Regions from separate parts of the Homo sapiens genome. Here all the other regions are linked to region 3. Evidence: fine-mapped QTL for protein levels in blood plasma. A gene starts in region 3. Each other region holds a variant in brackets. All regions are shown on one strand. Distances are from middle to middle. Region 1 has its middle 8.3 kb from the start of ZNF335. Region 2 has its middle 11 kb from the start of PLTP. Region 3 holds the start of PLTP (phospholipid transfer protein).

The links. PIP is the chance, under the fine-mapping model, that this variant and not a neighbour inherited with it causes the effect. Protein levels are from antibody-based Olink assays in UK Biobank. Linkage for the fine-mapping came from a reference panel and not from the study's own genotypes, which makes the PIPs less certain.
Region 1: its variant is fine-mapped to the plasma level of the PLTP protein (UK Biobank, PIP above 0.99).
Region 2: its variant is fine-mapped to the plasma level of the PLTP protein (UK Biobank, PIP above 0.99).

What each region holds. Positions count from the first base shown.
Region 1 is chr20:45,976,427-45,984,608 of GRCh38, reverse strand. No RefSeq gene overlaps it. Among named protein-coding and RNA genes, the nearest start is that of ZNF335, 8.3 kb to the right of the region's middle. The variant C/A (reference allele first, on the strand shown) is at 3,653.
Region 2 is chr20:45,918,890-45,927,071 of GRCh38, reverse strand. No RefSeq gene overlaps it. Among named protein-coding and RNA genes, the nearest start is that of PLTP, 11 kb to the right of the region's middle. RefSeq lists a silencer at 2,208-2,502. The variant A/G (reference allele first, on the strand shown) is at 3,856.
Region 3 is chr20:45,909,502-45,917,357 of GRCh38, reverse strand. PLTP (phospholipid transfer protein) reads left to right here and starts at 5,203. Exons shown (of 16, transcript NM_006227.4): 1 at 5,203-5,279; 2 at 5,895-6,005; 3 at 6,107-6,206; 4 at 7,288-7,416; 5 at 7,687-7,842. The coding sequence starts at 5,906.

The sequences.
Region 1 (8,182 bases), 67 kb before region 3:
GAGGCAGGTGAATGGCGTGAACCCGGGAGGCAGAGCTTGCAGTGAGCCGAGATCGCGCCACTGCACTCCAGCCTGGGCGACAGAGCGAGACTCCGTCTCAAAAAAAAAAAAAAATTAAAAAAAAAAATTCGTGTGGTGCAGGCCTGTGGTCTCAGCTACTTGGGAGCAGGGGAGGCTGAGGTGGGAGGATCGCTTGAGCTCAGGACGTCAAGGCTACACTGAGCCATGTTTGTACCACTGTACCCTAGCCAGGGTGACAGACCAAGACCCTGTCCTAAAAAACAACCCCAAAGATTGACTAAGCACCTACTACGTTTCAGTGACTATGCTTGGTAATGGGGCTACAGTGGTCAACAAGAAAGACAAGATCCTGGCCAGGTGCGGTGGCTCACACCTGTAATCCCAACACATTGAGAGGCCAAGGCTGGAGGACTGCTTGAGGCCAGGAGTTCAAGACCAGCTTGGGTAACATAGTGAAACCCCCATCTCTATTTTTTTTTAATTAAAAATTAAAGGCCGGGCACGGTGGCTCACGCCTGTATTCGCACCATTGCACTCCAACCTGGGTGACAAGAGCAAGACTCCATCTCAAAAAAAGAAAGAAAGAAAGAAAGTTCCCTGTTTGATATATATCCTCTTACCTATGCAACGTTCAGGCATGTGACTAGGCACCACACATAATAATACTAGGTACATTTATTAAGCACTTGCACTGTTTTCCACACAGTTTAATTTAATCCTCACAGATACCATATGAAATATTAATATCATCCCTAGTTTATAAGAGAGAAACAGAGGAGTAGAAAGTTAAGTAACTCCAAGCGGAGCTGGGGGTTGACTGCAGATGTTCTGATTCCAGAGCCTATGAGCTTAACTGCACTGCCACGCATTCTCTCTTTTACTCCTCAAAGTTCCCGTTTTACAGATGAGGAGACTGAGACTTGTGGACCCTCAGTTTGGTCTGACTCTAGAGTTCCTTGCCCCATGTTATCCTTCCAACAGCTGACTCATTCAACAATCATTTTCTGCTCAGCAGAGAAACAAACCAGACTCAGGACTGGCTTTGGGAGGCTCCGTCCATCGAGGAGCCTGGCAGGTAACTGGCAGCATCTCACGGTGGTGTGTGTTCTGTGACAGAGGTAGGCAGAGCATGCTAGGGGAACGCGCTGAAGGGAAATACCAGCTCTGCTGGGAAGAAGGCTTCCTGGAAGAGGTGATACTTAAGGCAGACATAGAAAGATAAAGAGACTAAAAAGGTCACATGGACTTGGGGGAGGGGCACTGCCTGACAATGCATACACAATGCAATCCTTCCTAGGTATGGGATAATTTGGGCCAGGTAATTTTTCTGTTTGTCTCAAATCCATTCTCTGCCCTTCTGCTCTGCTCCGTGCAGCAGAGGCTAATCCCTGCAAACCATGTTTCCTGGACTCCCTTGCCAACTGGCTTTTGGCTAGGATTGGCCAATGGGAAGTCCTGGTGAGAGACTGGAGAGAAAGAAGGGAGAAGCCAGGGTCTTTCTCCTCCATTTCTCTCGTCTTCGGGAAGGATGGGGTGGGGGGATCTTTAGCAGTTGCAATGACTCCTTCATGGTTCAGCTCCTGCTAGACAGACCTGCTGTGATTCCAGCTTCTCTCAGGGTGGCCCCAGTTGCTGGTCTCCAGTAATGCTACCTCCTCCCTTGATATGAATACTTCCAGCCCTGGGTGAGGTAGCAGCTTCATGAAGTTGCTAATCTCAGGTTTGCCTCAACTTCCCCTGGTTGCTATTTCTACCCATAAAACAACTTTGTAGCTAATTCTCCACATTAAGTTCCCTCTGTGTGTTGTGTTGTGTCTTGTGTGTATGTGTTTAGAGGCAGAGACAGGGTCTTGCTCTGTTGCTCAGGCTGGAGTGCAATGGCGCAGTCATAGCTCACTGCAGACTCAAACTCCTGGGCTCAAGCTATCCTCCCACCACAACCTCCCCAATAGCTAGGACTACAGGCACATGCCACCATGCCCAGCTAATTAAAAAAAAAACAATGTTTTTGTACAGACAAGGGTCTCACTATGTTGCCTAGGCTGGTCTCAAACCCCTGACCTCAAGTGATCCTCTCACCCTGGTCTCCCAAAGCGCTGAGATTACAGGCGTGAACCACTTCATCTGGCCTAAATTCCCTCTTTGGAATCATCTAGTAGTGGTAGAAGTCTTGTTTTCCTGGCTAGACCCCTGATATTCTGGGTCTTTGTTTCCTTGTCTATAAAATGAGGGTTCATTGGTTCATTCATAGAACAAATAGCTATCTAGTATCTACCTGTATCTCCAAAATGTGCTCAATGGTGAGGATACCACAGGAAACAAGACAGATTAAAGGAGACAAAAATCCAGGCCCTGCCTACCCTTTATGTCTTTGTAATGATCAGATGAGATGTTTCCATACATGTCGCCTGCTGCCTGGTGTCAGGAATTACCATCACATACAAACAGTCAAATACTATTTGGACTTCAGCCTATTTTCTTTTTCTTTTATTTTATTTATTTATTTATTTTGAGACAGAGTCTTGCTCTGTGGCCCAGGCTGGAGTGCAGTGGCACAATCTTGGCTCACTGCAACCTCTGTCTCCCCAGTTCAAGCAATTCTCCTGCCTCAGCCTCCCGAGTAGCTGGGATTACAGGCGTCCGCCATTATGCCCAGCTAATTTTTGTATTTTTAGTAGAGACGAGGTTTCGCCAGGTTGGCCAGGCTGGTCTTAAACTCTGACCTCAGGTGATCCACCCACCTTGGCCTCCCAAAGTGCTGGGGTTACAGGCATGAGCCACCGCACCCAGCCCATTCAGCCTATTTTCTAAATCCAAGTGTTGTGGCCCTAGGGCATTTCCCCACTACCCCATCCCCCTCCAATACTGAAAGAGAAAGATTTAGGACAAATAGAAGGAAATCTTAATTTACACCGTGGGAAGTCAACTTAAGGGACTCATTATCCCAAGTGGTGGTACAGTCTTAAGCTATAAATAGGTTTTTAAAAACAGGGTTAGCTAAACCCATAGACAGCAGTGACATGAAGAAAGCAGGTAGAGATGAACCCTCGGACCCACCTGCTGGCTGCCTACTCTCAACCCCGCTGCCCTTCCGGGGCATCTGGTGCAACATGAGGAGCACTGGACTGGGAGTCAGTAAGCCAGGGTTTGAATCCTACCTCTGCTGACGATCAAGCACATGACCTCAGACAGTCACTGCTCTGGGGCCTCAGGTTCCTCATCCGTAACATGGGAATGCAGAGAGCATCTAATATCTCTGGCTGTTGTGACTGTAGTTTAAAAATGCACATAGGGCCGGGCAAGGTAGCTCACATCTGTAATCCCAGCACTTTGGGAGGCTGAGGTGGGTGGATCACCTGAGGTCAGGAGACTAGCATGGCCAACACCGCAAAATCCCGTCTCTACTAAAAATACAAATTAGCCGGGCATGGTGGTGCGTGCCTGTAATCCCAGCTACTCGAAGGCTGAGGCAGGAGAATCGCCTGAGCCTGAGAGGCGGAGGCTGCAGTGAGCCGAGACTGCACCACTGCACTCCAGCCTGGGCGACAGAACGAGACTCCATCTTAAAAAAGAAAAAGACCAGCCTGGGCAACATGGTGAAACCCCACCTCTACCAAAAAAATATACAAAA[C/A]TTTGCCAGGTGTGGTGGTGTGCACCTGTAGTCCCAGCTGCTCAGGAGGCTGAAGTAGGAGGATCACTTGAGCTTGGGAGGACTGGTTGCAGTGAGCCAGGGTCTGCCACTGCACCCCAGCCTGGGCAACAGAGCCAGATCCTGTCTCAAAATAAAAATAAAAATGCATACAAAACACTGAATGCATCCCCTGATACTTGGTAAGTACCCAGTAAACATTCACCCAGCCGGGGTAATATGGGGAAAACCCATCTCTACAAAAAATACAAAACAATTTAGCTGGGTGTAATGGCGCGTACCTGTAGTCCCAGCTGCCTGGGAGGCTGTGGTGGGAGGACTGTTTAAGCCTGGTAGGCAGTGGTTGCAGCGACCCATGTTTGCACCACTGCATTCCAGCCTGGGTAACAGAGTGAGACCCTGTCTCAAAGAAAAAACAAAAAAGCCAAAAACAAACAAACAAACAAACAAACAATCTGCTAGTGGCCGGGCGCAGTGGCTCGCTCCTGTAATCCTAGCACTTTGGGAGGCCGAGGTGGGCGGATCACGAGGTCAGGAGTTCGAGACCAGCCTGACCAACATGGTGAAACCCCGTCTCTACTAAAAATTCAAAAAAATTAGCTGGGCGTGGTGGCGCGTGCCTGTAATCCCAGCTACTTGGGAGGCTGAGGCAGGAGAATCACTTAAACCCGGGAGGCGGAGGTTGCAGTGAGCCGAGTTTACGCCACTGCACTCCAACCTGGGCGACAGAGCGATGCTCTGTCTCAAAAAAATAAATAAATTAATTAAAAACTGCTAGTGTGATTATTATCTACTGCAGGAGATCTGGCCTGGGCTCACAGCCCCTTCCATTACACCAGAAAATTTCTGTGATCTTGAGCAAGTCAAATCCCCTCTCTGGGCTTCAATTTCCTCATCTGTAAAATGGGAAAATAGTAACCACCAGGCCTGACTCAGGAGAAGACAAAATATCACCTAAGAGTCAAGCATTATGATGAGAAATGGTACAGCAATCTAAAAGTATGGAGTCTAGAGCCAGATTGCTTAGTTTTCTTTTTTTTAAATAAATGAAAAAATTTTTATTGAGTATTACTTTATACATGTAAATTAAAAGTGAATCTATATTAAGTTGACTATTCTACAATAAAAACCTATGCAATGGGAATAATCAAAGCTGTCTACACAATACTAATGTGGTCAATAAATTACCCAGATGTTTTTCCACAAATATTTGGATTACCTGAATTAGCTGATTTTTCCACAAAAGTTAAATTTGAGCTTTAATATGGTAGCAGCAGGATGCTGCTTAAGTTTAGAAGAAAAACATAAGAATAAAAACCCTGAATAGCATAACCAAATCTTCCAAGAAATAAGTTCACCAAAAAAGTAGCATACACCTATTTGGTATCCAGAGGAGGAAACAAAACAAAACACAGGCACTTAATCAACATCCACCAAGTGATCATCACTAACATTCTATTATTACCAGAGCAACTGTCAATACGTGAACCGTAGATTAGGACAGACTTACATATCTAAAAACAAACCAGTAATCAATAATATATACAGAAATACTAACTTGCAGTCACATTTAAATACCATCAACAGTTTGGTGTATCTGATATAGACTGAATTCATTTCATCACTGCTATAAATTCCTTAAAAGTGTTCTTTTCCTAATGTAACATTATCTTTAAAAAATGGTAAGATATTTCCCAATATGCATCAGTTCTTTCACTCACCCATTCAATAAATGTTGCAGCAAATTAAATAGAACCTATTAACTAGATCTAAAAACAATGGCTGAATAATTAACACAAAGAAGTACTTTTGAGTAAACTATTCAGATTAGACAGGCTAATGCTAACTAAGACTGCATTTTGTGCTACTGACATGCACTATATAGATCGTACACTACTAGATGGAAGGTTGGTCCACGTCCATTTATTTAAAGATTCTGTAACACCTATAATAGTATTTAATACAGCTCCCACACATAATATTCCTCTCACATAGACATAGTTATTTTTAGTGGGGATAAGGTATGACTTTAACATGCTATGAGATTCTAGCTAAGTAAAATAAAAACAATATGGGCTCAGGTTTTCTTAGGTAATATTAGTTCAAGTTTTTAAACTGGGAAACAACCAACTTCCATATATCCAGGAGAAACTTAGCATGGGGGGAGGTGCCTTAGTTGATGTGCCTGATAAGCAAACTGTTAGTCGTCTATTAGTATTATGTTTTCAGCTTAATGTAACAACAAAAGAAAGGTGTCACACTACTTCTCAGATAATATGGGAATTACAATTACAGATAATATGGGATTACAATTACAATCCCATGGGATATCCTTTATTTATGAAAGCATAGTTCCAATGCAAAAGTCAAGCTTTATGGTTACATATTAGGATAGGTTCAGACCCAATATGACCATGTTTAGCACTAACTTTAACATGTTAAAGTTCTGATTCCTGAATGTTTTTCTCACTTAATATATTATCTCCAATGACAAGCTGGTGTGTCTGGCTTCTTATGCTGAAAATATATGCCTGAATCCTGTAACAAGTTATTAACAAAATCATGAATAGTTATTAAATAAGTGCCAGCACTACATGGAACTTACTGGTCACCAACTCAGAACGATAAAACTACACACATATGCACACAAAAAAACCCCAAAGAAACATACCTATCACTGTACATATGAATACTGTCCAGGATATCAGATCAATTATCAAATCCAAGGTCTCTGCTGTTTTGTCTTACAGTGTTGAATATATGAATGCTTCTCTATTACACTGACTTGTATTATTTTCAAGAAATTATTAAGTGGATTCAAAATCTTACATTTTTATTTCTAATTATAAAATCCAGATTAATCCAGAAAACACAAACCACATGTAACTGAGGTAGGTTTTTCACCTTAAGGATACATTGCTTCTACCACAATTTAAAATTTTTAAAATTGAAGAAAAAAAAAAGACTACATTGCTCCCTATACCTGCCTCTGATACTTAATTTTCTACGTTTGAAACTACTTGAACAAGTGTGACAGTGCTCTACTATATTTAGTAAATCCCTTAGTACCTACAAATACACACCCAAAATCCCTTCCCCCCTTCTCTAATGGTCACTGTTGTATAAAAAAATTGCCAACAACTCTAGAAAGATGAAATAAAGATTACTATAGCAATCTTCAGTTAATTCATTTCAGAAATCAAGGAAGCAAGTTACGTTCATTTTAAAGATGACAAACTTACTATTTTGAAAATGAGCTCATAAACACATTAGAACTTTGAATGTGCTTTAGTATGCCACAAATTCCCAGGAGATTTAAGAAATAGTATTTCTGAACAGAAATAATAATTTCACAAATACTTTATTGACAATAGACAAGTCTTTTAGGGTAGTGCACCTGTATTAAAAACTGCCTTCTAACAATCTCAACACTTTTTATAAATTTTCAGGGGAAACTGTAGCAGATCCTACTTTATTTTTCAATAGTTAGTGTAAAAGTCTGTATGTAAAATAAATACATATTTTAAGGAGATAGAAGAAGGACTGCACATGAAATGCTTTGACTAAGTTGTAAGGCTCCTGTCTTTACACTATCATTATGTTAAAAAGGCCAAAAAAAGTCACTGCTAGAAACATTCCCCCAAAAATTCTTAAACAGCTCAGTCTTTAAAAGTATTAATAATTTTTTTTTTGAGACAGAGTTTCATTCTTGTTGCCCAGGCTGGGGTGCAATGGTGCGATCTCAGCTTACCGCAACCTCCGCCTCCTGGGTTTTCAAGCAATTCTCCTGCCTCAGCCTCCCGAGTAGCCAGGACTATAGGCATGCGCCACCACGCCTGGCTAATTTTGTATTTTTAGCAGAGACGGGGTTTCTCCATGTTGGTCAAGCTGGTCTCCAACTCCCGACCTCTGGTGATCCACCTGCCTCGGTCTCGCAAAGTGCTGGGATTACAGGCATGAGCCACAGCACCCAGCCTAACAGATTGCTTAGTTTTCAATCCTAGCTCCATCCTTTACTTAGGTAGATTCTTTTATTGTTCTGTGCCTCAGTTTCCTCATATGTAAAATGGAGATAATAATGACAACCACTTCGTAGGTTCATAGGGTGGTTGTGAGGATAAATAAATGAATGTAAATAAACCACTTAGAATGGTGACCGGCACAGAGTAATTTAAGGTATTTCTTTTTTTGCTTTTGTTTTTGTTTTTGTATTTTTGAGATGGAGTCTCTATCGCCCAGGCGAGAGTGCAGTGGCACTATCTCAACTCCCTGCAACCTCCACCTCCCAGGTTAAAGCGATTCTCCTGCCTCAGCCTCCCAAGTAGTTGGGATTACAGGCAATGTGCCACCATGCCTGGCTAATTTTTGTATTTTGTGGTAGACACCAGGTTGGTCAGACTGGTCTTGAACTCCTGACCTCAAGTGATCCTCCCGCCTTGGCCTCCCAAAGTGTTGGGATTACAGACGTGAGCTACCGCACCCGGCCTAAGTGTATGATTACTATGGAATGAG
Region 2 (8,182 bases), 9.6 kb before region 3:
GGCAGCACCCTGTGGGCTGCCTGCTGTGGCCGAGTCTCTGTCAGTAGCCTGGAGTCTTTTATTCCCAATATAGGGATGAGCAGTTGAGCAAAGATCCTAAGGCTTTCCATTTCTCCAGCTACTTTTCTGAACTAAGAAGCCTGGGTAGACAATAGGTCTGGGCTGAGAGAGGTGGTTGGAATAAGCTGGGCTCCTCTCCCTGGCACCAGGGCCGGCTGCATAGATTTAGAAAGGCCCATGCTTACTGGGTGTGGAGGCTCATGCCTGTAATCCCAGCACTTTGGGATGCCAAAGTGGGAGGATTGCTTGTGGCCAAAAGTTCAAGACCAGCATGTGCAACATAGAACCCCATCTCTACATAAAATAATAATAGTAATAATTAGCTGGGCATAGTAGGTGCTCCTGCAGTCCTAGCTACTTGGGAGGCTGACGCAGGGGGTGATTGCTTGAGTCCAGGAGTTCGAGGCTGTAGTGAGCCATGATTGCACCACTGCACTCTAGACCCTGTCTCAAAAAATAAAAACAAGATGAAAATAAAAATAATAATAAAAAAGAAAAGTCTGTGTTTGGTTTAATGTTCTACTGTCACCATCTTAAAAATCTTAATAATTTTGGAACAAAAGTCCCACGTTTTCATTTTGCCCTGAGCCCTGAATATTGTTTTTTGAGACAGCGTCTTGCTCTGTCACCCAGGCTGGAGTGCAGTGGTGCAATCTCGGCTCGCTGCAACCTCCCCCTCCCAGGTTCAAGCAATTCTCTTGCCTCAGCCTCCCCAGTAGCTGGGACTACAGGCACGTGCCACTGGGTCCAGGTAATTTTTAGATTTTTAGTAGAGATGGGGTTTCACCATGTTGGCAAGTCTGGTCTCACACTCCCAACCTCAGGTGATCCACCCACCTTGGCACCCCAAAGTGATGGGATTACAGGCGTGACCCATCATGTCCGGCCCTAGCCCTGAAAATTATGTCACCACTCCTGGCTGGTCACTAGCTGCCAGGGCCTCTGAGGACCCCTGCCTCAACTCCGGACAAAGCCAAGCCTCCACACTAAAGCAGAAACATAAACAACCAGCTCAGGTTGCCACATAGCTTAACCCCCTTGTTCTCTGCCACTGCAGCAAGAAGCTGCTGAGAGGGAACTTTCATCCCCTGAGGTCCTGGCAGCTGGGGAAGGGAGACTCTAGCTGGATCCCACTCCAGGTTGCCCCCGCCTAGGCTGGGCTTGAGCTGGCCATGGACCCTACACTGCAGTTTAAATTATGCAAAGGGAGTTTCCAAGGCAAGTGGGTCTGGCCCCCGGAAAGCTGTGGAAAGGAGGCTTCCACCCCAAACTGTGGTTCCCACAGGGAGTGGCTCTTGGGCCATTCTGGGACCAGATGAGAGAAGCCATTTAGGCCAAGAATAGATGAGAGGAATGGGGGCGTCTCCCTTGGTCTTCCTGGCCTTGGAAGCGTCTGATGTGGTGTACTATTCCCTCCATTTCTTCCCTTGGCCTGTCCTAGAGTCTTGAGAATAAGCGATAAGTAAGACGGACAGACGGTTTGTCTTAGGGAGCCCACAGAGCAGTGTGGGAGGCAGACATATACATGAACCCTCTGCCACAGGGAGATGAGGGCTCTGGAGGGATGGCAGGGGCTGGGGGTGGTGGGCACACAAAGGAGAAAGCTTCAGAGGAGATGACAATGAACAGATTCTTATTGGAAAAATAGATTTTCCAGGTAGGCAAGGAAAAGGGGAGGGCACAGCGTGTGCCAAGGCCTGGAGGTATAGAAAGGGAGGGTGTGTTTGGAGAGCTGGTCAACCTGAGCACAGCCAGGGAGCAAGGGAGGTGCAGGTCCTACCAGGACCCTGGAGTCCAAATTCAGTCCTTGCTCTGGGTTAGTGCTCAGCATCCCAGGCGGCGTTTGGTCATATCAAGATAGGGGTGGGCCACCTGTGGTGGTCCCCTCCACTCTCCCACCCATTCCCTGTGATGCGCTTTTTTTTTTTAAGACAGTCTTGCTCTATCGCCAGGCTGGAGTTCAGTGGCGCGATCTCGGCTCACTACAACCTCCAACTCCCTGGTTCAAGCGATTCTCCTACCTCAGCCTCCTGAGTAGCTGGAATTACAGGCACATGCCACCATGCCCAGCTAATTTTTGTATGTTTAGTAGAGATGGGGTTTCATCATGTTGGCAAGGACAGTATCAATGTCCAGACATCATGATCCGCCTGCCTCGGCCTTCTAAAGTGCTGAGATTACAGGCGTGAGCCACCGTGCCCGGCCGTGATGCTCATTTTTGCACTTCAGTCAGAGTGGCCAAGAGCCAGGATGTTTACTCCCATATGAGCTGAGTCTGCAGAATTCCAGACTTCTTCAAAAAAGAAACAAGAGCGACAGCTGGTAGCTTCCTGAAAGTCTGAGATCACAGAAAACTGACTTAGAAAGGAGAGAAAGGAGGACACCCCACCCAGCCTGGGTCCCAGCTGGGTTCCCAGGACACATCTAACCCAGAGATCTCAACCCGAGCTAGGAAAATGTTTTTAACAGCTTTATTAGGGTATAATTTACAGACTACAAGACTCACTTGTTTTCAGTATACAATTCTATCACGCCTGTGATCCCAGCACTTTGGGAAGCCACGGCAGGCGGATCGCCTGAGGTCAGGAGTTCAAGACCAGCCTGACCAACATGGCGAAATGCCATCTCTACTAAAAATACAAAATTAGCCAGGCTCAGTGGTGTATGCCTGTAATCCCAGCTACTTGGGAGGCTGAGGCAGGAGAATCCCTTGAACCTGAGAGGCGGAGGTTGCAGTGAGCTGAGGTCACGCATTGCACTCTAGCCTGGGCAACAACGGCAAAACTCAGTCTCAAAAAAAAAAAAATACAAAAATTAGCTCGGCGTGGTGGTGGGCGCCTGTAATCCCAGATACTTGGGAGGCTGAGGCAGGAGAATCGTTGAACCAGGGAGGTGGAGGTTGCAGTGAGCTGAGATCATGCCACTGCACTCCAACCTGGGAGAGATTCCGTCTCAAAAATAAATAAATAAATAAATACATATACAATTCTGGCCGGGCACAGTGGCTTACACCTATAATCTCAGCACTTTGGGAGGCTGAGGCAGGAGGACTGCTTGAGCCCAGGAGCTAGAGACCAACCCAGACAAGACCTTGTCTCTACTAAAAATAATAATAATAAGTAAATGAATAGGCCGGGCACGGTAGCTCACGCCTGTAATCCCAGCACTTTGGGAGGCTGAGGAGGGTGGAGGTGAGGAGTTCGAGACCAGCCTGGCCAACGTGGTGAAACCCTGTCTCTACTAAAAATACAAAAATTAGCCAGGTGTGGTGGTAGGCACCTGTAATCCCAGCTACTGGGGAGGCTGAGACAGGAGAATCGCTTGAACTCAGGAGGCGGAGGTTGCAGTGAGCCGAGATTGCACCATTGCACTTCAGCCTGGGGGAAGGAGAGAGACTCTGTCTCAAAAATGAATGAATAAATAAATAAATAAATAAAATTTGTTTTAAGTAAATGTATAGAGTTATACAATTGTCAACACAGTTCTGTTTTAGAACATTTCCATTACCCTAAAAGATTTCTTGGGCTTGTTTGCAGTCAGTTCCTGTTCCCACCATCAGCCCCCAGCAACCACTGGCCTGCTTTCTGTCCCTATAGAGCTGCCTTTTCTGAACATTTCATATAAATAGAATCACACAGATGTAGTCTTTTGCAGCTTGCATCTTTCACTTTGCATTATGTTTTTGAGCTTCATCCATTTTGAAGCATATATCAGTAGTTGATTCTTTTTTTATTGCTGAATAGTGTTGCATTATACAGATATACCATATTTTATTTGTTTACCAATTGATAGTTG[A/G]ATTGTTTCCACCTTTTGGCTATTACGAATAACACTACTATCAACATTCATGTACAAATGCATTCATTTTCCTTTTCTGTGGGTAGACCCTTAGGAGCGAAATTGCTGTATGGTAAATTTGTGTTCAACTTTTTTTTTTTTTTGAGATGGAGTCCTGCTCTGTCGCCCAGGCTGGAGTGCAGTGGTGCGATCTTGGCTCACTGCAACCTCTGTCTCCTGGGTTCAAGCAATTCTCCTGCCTCAGCCTCCTGAGTAGCTGGAATTACAGGTGCCCACGACCATACCCAGCTAATGTTTTTATTTTTGGTAGAGTTGGGGTTTCACCATGTTGGCCAGGCTAGTCTCGAACTCCTCCTGACCTCAGGTGATTCGCCCACCATGGCCTCCCAAAGTGTTGGGATTACAGGCGTGAGCCTGCTGGAAGGTGAGGTAGAAGGGGCCTGGGGGTGGGTTAGGTCAAGGAGTCCCGATTTCTGCTCAGCCCACTGAGATCCTGTGGGGGCACCTCCCATGACCTTAGGCGTCTCTCAGGCCTCTGGGGAGATTAGGAAAGTATGACATTCTTGGCTGCAGACCAGCTCCAGATAACCCCGGCTAAATGCAAGGAAATGGGTGGTACCAGCAGAAAGCATAGAGCTTAGAGGCTCAGCCGGGGATTAGATCAGGGCTACAGAGTGCACCATAAAAGCTGCTCCTTCTGAAGGGTCTAGGGATGATAATAACACCCCATCTTGAATTCAACAAACATCTTTTTTTTTTTTTTCCTGAGATGGAGTTTCGCTCTCTTGCCCAGGCGGGAGTGCAGTGGTGTGATCTCAGCTCACTGCAACCTCTGCCTCCCAGGTTCAAGTGATTCTTCTGCCTCAGCCTTCCAAGTAGCTGGGACTACAGGTGTGTGCCACCACGCCCGGCTAATTTTTGTATTTTTAGTAGAGACGGAGTTTCACCATTTTGGCCAGGCTGGTCTCGAACTCCTGACCTCGTGATCTGTCTGCCTCGACCTCCCAAAGTGCTGAGATTACAGGCATGAGCCACCGTGCCCGGCCATCTTGAATTCAACAAACATCTATTGAGCATTTTCTGTGTGCCAGACCCTGTGCTGGGCACTGGACATATGGCCATGAATAAGAGTGGCAGGCTCCTGTCCCCGCCCTGGGGAGCTTGCAGTCTACTGGAAGAAACAGGCAATAAAGAATTAAACAAACAGAATGACAGGTAATGACACAGAGGGGGCCTCTTCTGTGGGGGTGACATTTGAGTAGGGATCTGAGTAACTCTGCATGGGTATGTGTGTGGGATGATGTGTCTGGTGGAGAAAAGAATTAAGGAAAGTCTGAGGCTGAAGGCACTTGGTGTGTTCCCAACAGTGGTAGAAGATGGGCTTGGAGAGGAAGGTAGGCAGGAGCTAGTTCACCTGCAGTGTTTCCAGAGGTCGTGGCCAGAGTCTGGGTTTTATTTTGTGTGTGATGGGGAGGATGTTGAGCAGGATAGAAAAATTCTATGATTCCCATTTTTAAAAATATCACTTAGATTGATGTAGAGAGGCTAGACCTACAGGAGAAATGGTGAGACAGGGAGATAAGGCAGGTTGTCCCGGTAACCAATGAAAATGGCTTGAAGTGGTGTTGGTGCTGATAGAGAGAATTGTATAGATGTGGGGCATCTTTTTTTTTTTTCGAGGCAGAGTCTCGCTCTGTTGCCCAGGCGGGAATGCAGTGGCGCAATCACAGCTCACTGCAGCCTTGACCTCCTGGACTCAAGCGATCTTCCCACCTCAGCCTCCCAAGTAGTTGGGACTATTGGCGCATGCTACCACACCTGGCTAATTATTTTTTGTAGAGACAAAGTCTCACTATGTTGCTCAGGCTGGTCTTGAACCCCTGGGCTCAAGTGATCCTCCCACCTCAGCCTCCCAAAGTGCTTTGATTACAGGCATAAGGTGAGGCGTCTTTTGGAGTTAGAGACACCGGGATTTGCTGATGTGGGGTATAACAAAAAAAGGAAGTCAAGGATGACTCCTATATTTTTGACTTGAGCACTGCATAAAGCTGGTGCCATGACCTGTGATGGGGAAGCTTGGAAAAGGAGCAGGATTTGGTACTTGCTAGGGTTGGGGGGGAGCTAAAATATGGATCTAGCTGGGTGGAAGAGAGGAAGAAGGCCAGAGGGCGGTGACATCCTCATGATTCCTGGCTAGGGGTTGGCAATCTTGTTAGACCAAAGCCTGGGTTATGCGGGGGACTCCTGCAGTATTAGGACACCTGGAAAAATTCGAGTTGCATTATGTTGACCACTTCTTGCAACATTTCAGCAAGCCCTGCAGAAAAGGGACAAGCTTAGGCTGAAGATGGTGGCCTATCCTTATTATCAAAGGAAAAAATCCCTTCCTTTGGGGCCCCCTCCCTTCACTTACTTTGAAATGTTGTGACTGGCTTATGAAATCCAAACATCTAGACAGAGCTGCTATGGATCCTCCACCTCTTCCTCAAAACAAGTAGAGGCTGGAAAGCCCACGTGGAGTATAAGGAAAGCACAGACGGTTAGGAGGCTTAGAGGACCACAGAAAGAGGTCCCCATGAGTCAGAGTCAGCTAGCAGACTGACAGAGGCATAGAAACTGGGAAGAAGGGTGGGATATGAAGAAGAAAAGAAAAGGGAAGTCAGAGAGAGAGTGAGCTGCCCAAGGCTGACATCCGAGCCCTGATGGAGAGGCACCAGGTGTGGGGATACAATGCCCTAGGACCGAGGACCCAGGGAAAGCAACACCTCATAAGGAACCTTAGAATCCTTGAGTTTCTAATCTGGAGGTGACTTCAGACACCAAGTGGCCTGTTCTTCACACAGAAAATGGACTGGCCTTCAAGGAGGAAATGGGAAAGAAAGAAGAAAACAACAGATCTCCCAGCTTTAGAAATCACGGAAAGTCAGTCCACAGCTTTGGCCTGGCTGAACTCAGCAAGCCCCAGCCCTTTTAGATTCCTTTTACCCATTTGGTAAATGTCCAGCCCTCACGCGGACTGTTTTGTCCAGTTGCATTCTGGAAACAGATGATCATTTCGCCTGTCTGGAGAGATGTAATCGGGGTCTTCCTGGCCTGAGATTTGTCCTCCTCAGATAATCCTCCTCTCATTCCAGCTGGGTCCCCTGTCACATGTCCCCAGGTGCACCCATGCTGACCAACACAGGCGCATGAGCTGCAGTGCTCATATGCTCAGGCAGAGTGAGGAGAAGGGGGTCACTCCCTGAGGGGTAGCTGGGGTGGGCGTTGGGGGTGGGGACTGGGCAGGAGAGGAGATGGGCTGACGCAGCTTCTCCAAGCCATGCAGAGATCCAAAGAAAACACAGCTGGAGGCACAGCGAGGGAGGAGGGGGCCAGAGCAGTGCATGTTGACATGTTGGGCAGCAATCCAGCTTGGCCTCCTGTGGTCAGTGGAGCCCGTGTTTACTTCCTTGGACCAGTTATTTCCTCGTACTGAACCTCAGTTTCCAAATCTGCAAAACAGGGCCAATAATAGCTATCTCAAGGCACTGCTGTGAGAGTTACATGGGATAATGAAAAAGAGAGAGACAGAGAGAGAAACCTAGTTACAAGCATAGGCTCTGGGGCCAGACTGACTTGAGCTTATAACTGCTGGGCCTCAGTTTCCTTATCTGTAAACTGGGGGTGAGGATACCTATCTTGTAGGATGTTATGAAGTGTAAGTGAGTTAATATGTGGAAGCACTTTCTGGCCAAGTGTGGTGGTTCACGCGTGTAATCCCAACACTTAGGGAGGCCGAGGCAGGCAGATCGCTTGAGGCCAGGAGTTTGAGATCAGCTTGGTCTACACAGTGAGATTCTATCTCTACAAAAAAATTTTAAAAGTTAGCTGAGCATGGTGGTACATGCCTATAGTTCCAGCTACTCGGGAGGCTGAGATGGGAGGATTACCTGAGCCCAGGGAGGATGAGGCTGCAGTGAGCCATGATCGTGCCACTGCCTTCCAGCCTGGGTAACAGAGTGAGACCCTGTCTCAAAAAAGCACTTTCTGTTTGTTAAGCAACTATGACAACTATTAATACTAATAATCAGGCCAGGCACAGTGACTCATGCCTGTAATCCCAGAACTTTGAAAGGCCAAGGCGAGAGGATCGCTCGAGCCCAGGAATTCTAGACCAGCCTGGGCAACAAAGTGAGAGCGCCCCACCCCGCCACCAAGTACTAGGTTCCACACTTTGTATACTTTATCACTTTAAATCCTCACTGCCACCCAGGGAGGTAGGTAAGTACTAGATCATCCCATTTTACAGATGTGGAAACTGAGGTTCAAAAAGTGTTTTTTTTTTTTA
Region 3 (7,856 bases):
CGCCTGCTGCCCAGGGACATTCAAGGACTCCAAACCAGTTCAATCACTCAGTAAATATTTAGTCAGTACCTACTGTGTGCCAGGCATGGTTCTAGGCACTAAGGACACAGTGTTGAACAAAATTCCAGCTCTCACGGGGACAGACAACAAACAAGAAAGAAAATATTCAATAGTAATAAAATCTATAAAGAAAATAAACCAGGCTGATATGATTGAGAGCGATTAATAGATAGGCAGGCAGGGAAGGCCTCTCTGAAAAAACGCCATTTAAACTGAGACAAAATGCTGGGCGTGGTGGCTCGAGCCTGTAATCCCAGCACTTTGGGAGGCTGAGGCGGACAGATCACTTGAGGTCAGGAGTTCGAGACCAGCCTGGCCAACATGTGAAACCCCATCACTACTAAAAATACAAAATTAGCTGGGCGTGGTGGTGCACGCCTGTAATCCCAGCTACTCAGAAGACTGAAGTAGGAGAATTGCTTGTACTCTGGAGGTAGAGTTTACAGTGAGCCGAGATCATACCACTGCACTCCAGCCTGGGTGACAGAGCGAAGCTCCGTCTCAAAAAATAAATAAATAAAATAAGCTGAGACAAAATGACAAGGAAGATCAGGTGGAAAAGCATTCCAGGTAGAGGGAACAGCAAATGCAAAGGCTCTGAGCAAGAAGAACTTGCACATTCAAGGAACAGAAAAACCAGTTTGGCTGGAGCCGAATGCAAAGGGCAAGAGAGGTGAGAGGTGAGACAGAGAGAGTAGGCCCTATCACATGCCAGGGAATCAGGGTACTGAGGCAGGAGTCTATTCCAGTATGGTGAAAAGCCACTGATGGCTGATCATGCTAATGATTGTAGGTAACATTTTTTGAGCCCTTAGGAAATGCCAAGTACTTATTAAACCCTTTCAATGCATTAACTCATTTAATCCTCACAAGCAATCCTAAGAGGGAGGTACCTGGATCATCCTCATCTTACAGATGAGGAAACTGAGATCCAGAGGGGTTAGGCCACTGGCCAGTGAATTGCATGGGACAAGACCATTTAAGAGATAAAAATGATACAAAGATGAAGCCTGGATTCATCTGGGTACACAACTGAGGCTAGAAAAGCATTTCTTTCCCATCCCTTTGATTGCTGGGAAGCCTCTCCTTCAGTCTTCAAAGCCAGGAAGAGTGAGGCCAGGCACAGTGGCTTACGCCTGTAATACCAGTATTTTGGGAAGCCAAGATCGGAGGATCTTTTGAGGCCAAGAGATTGAGACCAGCAAGGGCAATATAGCGAGAAATATTTCACCTAAGAAAATGAGAGCAAGGCTGGGCACACTGGCTCACGCCTGTAATCCCAGCACTTTGGTAGCTCAGGAGTTCGAGACCAGCCTGGCCAACGTGGTGAAACCCCATCTCTACTAAAAATACAAAATTAGTCAGCTGTGGTGGTGTGTGCCTGTAATCCTAGCTACTCTGGAGGCTGAGGCGGGAGAATCGCTTAGAACCCGGGAGGTGGAGGTTGCAGTGAGCCGAGACAGCACCACTGCACTCCAGCCTGGGTGACAGAGTAAGACTCTGTCTCAAAAAAAAAAAAAAAAAAGAAAAAAAGAAAAAGAAAACGAGAGGAAAGGCCAGATGTGGTGTAACACCAGCACTTCGGGAGGCTGAGGTGGGTAGATCTCTTGAGCTCAGGAGTTCAAGACCAGCCTGGGCAACATGGTGAAACCTCATCTCTGTGAAAAATACAAAAATTAGCTGGGTATGGTGGCACATACCTGTAGTCTCAGCTACTCAGGAGGCTGAGGTGGGAGGATCACCTGAGCCTGGGGAGGTTGAGGCTGCAGTGAGCCGTAACTGCACCACTGCACAGCAGTCTGGGCAACAGAATGAGACCCTCTCTCAAAAAAGAGGGAAAAAAAGAAAGAAAAGAAGAGAAAACAGCCAGGTATGGTGGTGCACACCTGTAGTCCCAGCTACTTGGGGGGCTGAGGTGGGAGGATTGCTTGAGCCCGAGAGTTGGAGATCAGCCTGAGCACATGGTGAGACCCTATCTTAAATAAATAAAATGTATTTTGTTGTTGTTGTTAAAAAAAAATAAAAAAGGGCCAGGTGCACTGGCTCATGCCTGTAATCCCAGCACTTCGGGAGGCCAAGGCGGGCGGATCACCTGAGGTCAGAAGTTCGAGACCAACCTGGCCAACACGGTGAAACCCTGTCTCTAAAAATACAAAAATTAGCTGGGCATGGTGGCAGGCGCCTCTAGTCCCAGCTACTCGGGAGGCTGAGGCAAGAGAATCACTTGAACCTGGGAGGTGGAGGTTGCAGTGAGCCGAGATCGTGCCACTGCACTCCAGCCTGGGTGACAGAGCGAGACTCCACCCCACAAAAAAAAAAAAAGAAAAGAAAGGAAATAAGAGGAAAGAAAACTAACATCCACCAGGTTTTCTGCTTGAGCCAGGCTCTAGGAAGGTTACTAGAGTTCAAAGGAACACAGATACTTCCTCCTCTGGATACTCTTAACACTTTCTCTGTTCTCCCTCTACACCTTTTCTGCTTTGTTTGCTCGTGGTATGTGCCCCTAATTAAGATAGCTAGCATTTATTTGGCACTAATGATGTGTCATGTACCAGGCCCATTTATTCTTGCAATAACCTTAAATTATTGTTTCCATTTTAGGATGAGGAAATTGAAGATCTGAGTGCTTAAGCAAGGGATCAATGTCATACACCTAAGAACTGACAACCTGGGGTGTAAACTCTTGTCTGTCAGACACAAGAGTCTAAGTACATAACTACCGGGCTATAAAGCCCACCTTCCACTCTTCCATGAACAGTCTACGGATTCCCTAATAGCAGCCACAGAATTGCTTCAACCTCTACTTCCTGTTAAAGAGGGTTCATAATAGTGCCAGTCTGACAGGTTGTTAAGGTTAAATAAATTACCTAGAATTCGGATGACCAGTTGTAAGGTTTCCCAGGGACTGAGTGGGTTCCCAGGAATGGTTTCAAAATGGGGATGGCTGGATGTGTGGCTCACGCCTGTAATCCCAGCACTTTGGGAGCCCAAGGCAAGAGGATCACTTGGGTCCAGGAGTTCAAGATCAGCCTGGGCAACATGGTGAGACCTGTCTCTACAAAAAATACAAAACTTAGCTGGACATGACATGGTACCACCTGCCTGTAGTCCTAGCTACTCAGGAGGCTGAGGTGGGAAGATCGCTTGAGCCCAAGAGGTGGAGGCTTCAGTGAGCCGTGATTGTACCACTGCACTCCAGCCTGGGCAACAGAGCAAGACCCTGTCTCTAAAAATATAAATAGGCGGCCGGGCGCGGTGGCTCACGCCTGTAATCCCAGCACTTTGGGAGGCCAAGGCAGGTGGATTGCCTGAGGTCAGGCGTTCGAAACCAGCCTGGCCAACATAGCGAAACCATATCTCTACTAAAAATACAAAAAATTAGCTGAGCGTAGTGGTGGGTGCCTGTAATCCCAGCTACTTGGGAGGCTGAGGTAGGAGAATTGCTTGAACCTGGTAGGCGGAGGTTGCAGTGAGCCGAGATTGCGCCATTGCACTCCAGCCTGGGCAACAAGAGAGAAACTCCATCTTAAATAAATAAATAAAAATAAATAAATAGGCTGGGCATGGTGGGTCACACCTGTAATCCCAGCACTTTGGGAGGCTAAGGCAGGCGGATCACTTGAGGGCAGGAGTTCAAGACCAGCCTGGCCAAAATGGCAAAACCCTGTCTCCACTAAAAATACAAAAATTAGCCAGGTGTGGTGGCACATGGCTGTAGTCCCAGCTACTTGGGAGGCTGAGGCAGGAGAATCACTTGAACCCAGGAGGCAGAGGTTGCAGTGAGCCAAGATCACACCACCGCACTGCAGCCTGGTGACAGAGCACGACTGTGTCTCAAAAAAATTAATTAATTAATTAAATAAAAAAGGAAATGGAACTATTTTTGTGAATCTGTGGATTATATCAGAAAAAAAAGACACAATGGGGAAAGTCCTAGGCAAATCAGGATGAGTTAGTCATCCTTCCTAGATGAGTGTTTGGTGCTAAATACATGCTCAGCAGACATGATTATTGCTTCCCCTTTCTTTCGTCCATTTGGCAACAAAAAGGTGGCAAGCACCCACTCTGTGCCCTGTCCTAGGGTCCGGGAACCCTGTAAGCAGTAGATGGAGGTGGGGGTGGGGGTGGGGGCGGGGATGCTGTTCAGAGCACCTTGCTCCAAGGGTTCATTAAAAAATCCACCAGTGGACCGGGCGCGGTGGCTCATGCCTTTAATCCCAGCACTTTGGGAGGCCGAGGCGGGCGGATCACAAGGTCAGGAGATCGAGACCATCCTGGCTAACACGGTGAAACCCCGTCTCTACTAAAAATACAAAAAAAATTAGCCGGGCGTGGCAGCGTGCGCCTGTAGCCCCAGCTGCTGGGGAGGCTGAGGCAGGAGAATGGCGTGAACCCGGGAGGCGGGGCTTGCAGGGAGCCGAGATCGCGCCACTGCACTCCAGCCTGGGGGACAGAGCGAGACTCCGTCTCAAAAAATAAAAATAAAAAAAATAGAAAAAACAATCCACCAGCCACGATAAATGGCAGACCTCCTTCTGATTTCAGCCGGTGTGGTATGTTCCTGGGCTGACAGCACTTGTCTAGTCTTGCTTTCCCAAGTGGGAAAGGTCTCTGGGACCTTAAGGTCCCCAGGTGGTGACACAGAGACAGGTAGGGGGGCCCATAGCAAAGCCAGGCAAGGAGGTCCCGAGATGATTGTGGGTGGCAGGGAAAGAAAAAATATTCCTTGACTTTGTGCCTGGACCTGGTTGTAATAAAGGCCCAAGAGGTAGTTCCTATCATCGTGCACATTTCGCTGAAGGAAGAAACTGAGGGTCAGTGACCCAAGTGAAGTGACTTGCCCAAGATCATGCAGGAAGACATGGATAATTGTAATTTGAACCAAGGTCCCAGCAAAGTGGGATTGTTGGGGCTGAGTGGGCCGGCTCCTGCATTTCCTTCCCTCTCCCTGGGCTTGGGTCTCCCACTTGTCCAGACAGCGGCCGGGCTTGTCACGGGGCTCTGTGCAGCCTTTTCCACTCTCCCGGCTGCCAGCGTCCCGCCCCGTCCCCTCCCAGCCCCCAAGGGAGGAGGGGAGAGCTGCAGAGAGGAGGAGGGGTCGGGGAGGCCGGCTTTATAAAGGCGGCTGGAACAACCCTGCCCGCCAGACCCCGTCGCCCGGATCCCCTGAGCTGCCCGCCATCCCACGTGACCGCGCCGCCCCCCAGCTCCACCGCTGAGTGAGTTGGGGCGCGTCCCTATCCCGTTCCCAGTCCCTCGCCGAGCCGCGTGGTGCACTGAAGCCGGCGTGGGGAGGAGAGCCGATGAAGGAGAACGCTAACATGGGGGCTCCAGGCAGAATCTCTAATGGGAGAGATTTAGGACCTGAGGGAGCCGGGAGACCCGGGAGCCCACGGTCTGGTCGGCCACCTCCTCTCCTCCCCGGGCGCGAGGCCTAGGAGACCGCAAGCCACCCTCCAAGAATGCGCGTGCAGTCGTTGCCGTGGCAACGTGCAAGCCTGCATGGGCCCACCGCTAAAGGAAAGGGGAGGTTGTTGGGGGTGTGGGGGCTGGTCCCCTGGAGGTCCAAACTCATCACGCGGCGGTAGCACGAGGGAACTGGGAACGTCCCCTCCCCCGTGTCCCAAATCCTCTGGGAGCCAGAACGCAAGTCGCATCGCCTCTCTGAGCCTCAGTTTCCACATCTGCCATATGGAGGCAAGATTATTGGTTCCAAGTTCCCCGAAGAGTTATCTGGAGGGTAACGATCCAGGCTAGTTCCCACTTATGGTTGGACGTCCAAGGAATGGGTTTAAGCGGCTCAGATAACTCCTGCGACCCCACCCCACCCCCAGGCCCGCTCGCCATGGCCCTCTTCGGGGCCCTCTTCCTAGCGCTGCTGGCAGGCGCACATGCAGAGTTCCCAGGCTGCAAGATCCGCGTCACCTCCAAGGCGCTGGAGCTGGGTAAGGCGCAGGGGCAGACAGGGACGGACGGGAGCGGACGGGGTTGGGGTCGCCCCAACAGTGGGCACGGGAGCTAAGTAAGGGTTTCTCTGCTGCTTCAGTGAAGCAGGAGGGGCTGCGCTTTCTGGAGCAAGAGCTGGAGACTATCACCATTCCGGACCTGCGGGGCAAAGAAGGCCACTTCTACTACAACATCTCTGAGTAAGTGGGGGGCGGGGCCTCGCGATCCGGGGCGGGGCCTCGGCGGTGGAGGCGGGGCCCGAGAAATCTCAGGGTCTCGGGAGACTGGAGGCTGAGTGGGATGGGGCGTGGCCAAATCGATGAGGCAAGACTTAAGAAACCGGATGGGGCCGAAAAGATAAAGGCCAAGCCAGTCATCATAGGCGGGACCAGGCAGATGGGCGTGGCCTTGAAAATGTAGAGGGGGCCAAGAAGGAAGCAGGACCAGTGGATGTGAGGCGTGGTCGAAGAACAACAGAAAGGTGGAGTCAAGGAACTTCCCAATAGATGAGAGTGGAGTCTCGGGCACGGGGTGGAGTTAATCGGAGGGGTGGAGAAACTGAAGGCTCTAAGTATGGTTTAGGATGAGGGAGGGGGAATAAGGAATTGAGATGTGAGACGGAGCTTAGGTGATGGAGGCAAAGTGAACGGACTCTATTAAAAGACCGGGTGTAGCAACCCCAGGGTGTGGGAGGGGAGGGGGTGCAAGCAAACAAGACTTTTTTTTTTTTTTTTTCTGAGAGGGAGTCTTGTTCTGTTGCCCAGGCTAGAGTGCAGTGGCGCGATCTTGGCTCACTGCAACCTCCGCATCCCGAGTTCAAGCGATTTTCCTGCCTCAGCCTCCCGAGTAGCTAGGACTACAGGCGCGTGCCACCACGGTCTGCTAAGTTTTGTATTTTTGGTAGAGACGGGTTTCACTATGTTGGCCAGACTGGTCTCGAACTCCTGACCTCAAGTGATCCGCCCTCCTCGGCCTCCTAAAGTGCTGGGATTACAGGCATGAGCCACCACCGCACCTGGCAAACAAACAAACAAGACTTTTAAGCGATGGGGTGAAGCTCATTTTTAACACCTGGATCAGGAAGACCTCCTCTCTCAGCCACCCAAGTTCAACTTTGAGCCACCCAAGTCTAAGTTGGGCACTTGAGGGACAATGGAAGAATTCATTCCACCCACTCCCGCTTCCCCAGGCCTGGACTTGAAAGGGGAGCAGACAAATTTCCTGTCGTTGGGGGAAGTTCCCTCTTCTTGGCCCTGGATCTGACCCTGAGGCCTCCTGTAGGGTGAAGGTCACAGAGCTGCAACTGACATCTTCCGAGCTCGATTTCCAGCCACAGCAGGAGCTGATGCTTCAAATCACCAATGCCTCCTTGGGGCTGCGCTTCCGGAGACAGCTGCTCTACTGGTTCTTGTAAGGACCCAGCACCCTCAGGGGAGTGGAGAGTGGGTCAGGAGGGCTGGAGGTGCTGTGGGGCTGTGGGCAGCCCCCTTAGCCTTCCTGAGTTTCCGTTTCTTCATCTGTGTAACAGAAACAGGCATATGCATTTCATACGAGTTGATAGGAAGGTTTGGTAGGATGTGTGGAAAGAGGTGAAACCTTATTAAGAGGTATGGTGATGCATGGGGGCACTGAAGACTCAATTGAGCTCCTACCTGGAGTGAATATTAACCCCCCTGGCAGCTATGATGGGGGCTACATCAACGCCTCAGCTGAGGGTGTGTCCATCCGCACTGGTCTGGAGCTCTCCCGGGATCCCGCTGGACGGATGAAAGTGTCCAATGTCTCCTGCCAGGCCTCTGTCTCCAGAATGCACGCGGCCTTCGGGGGAACCTTCAAGTAAGCCCCAGCCC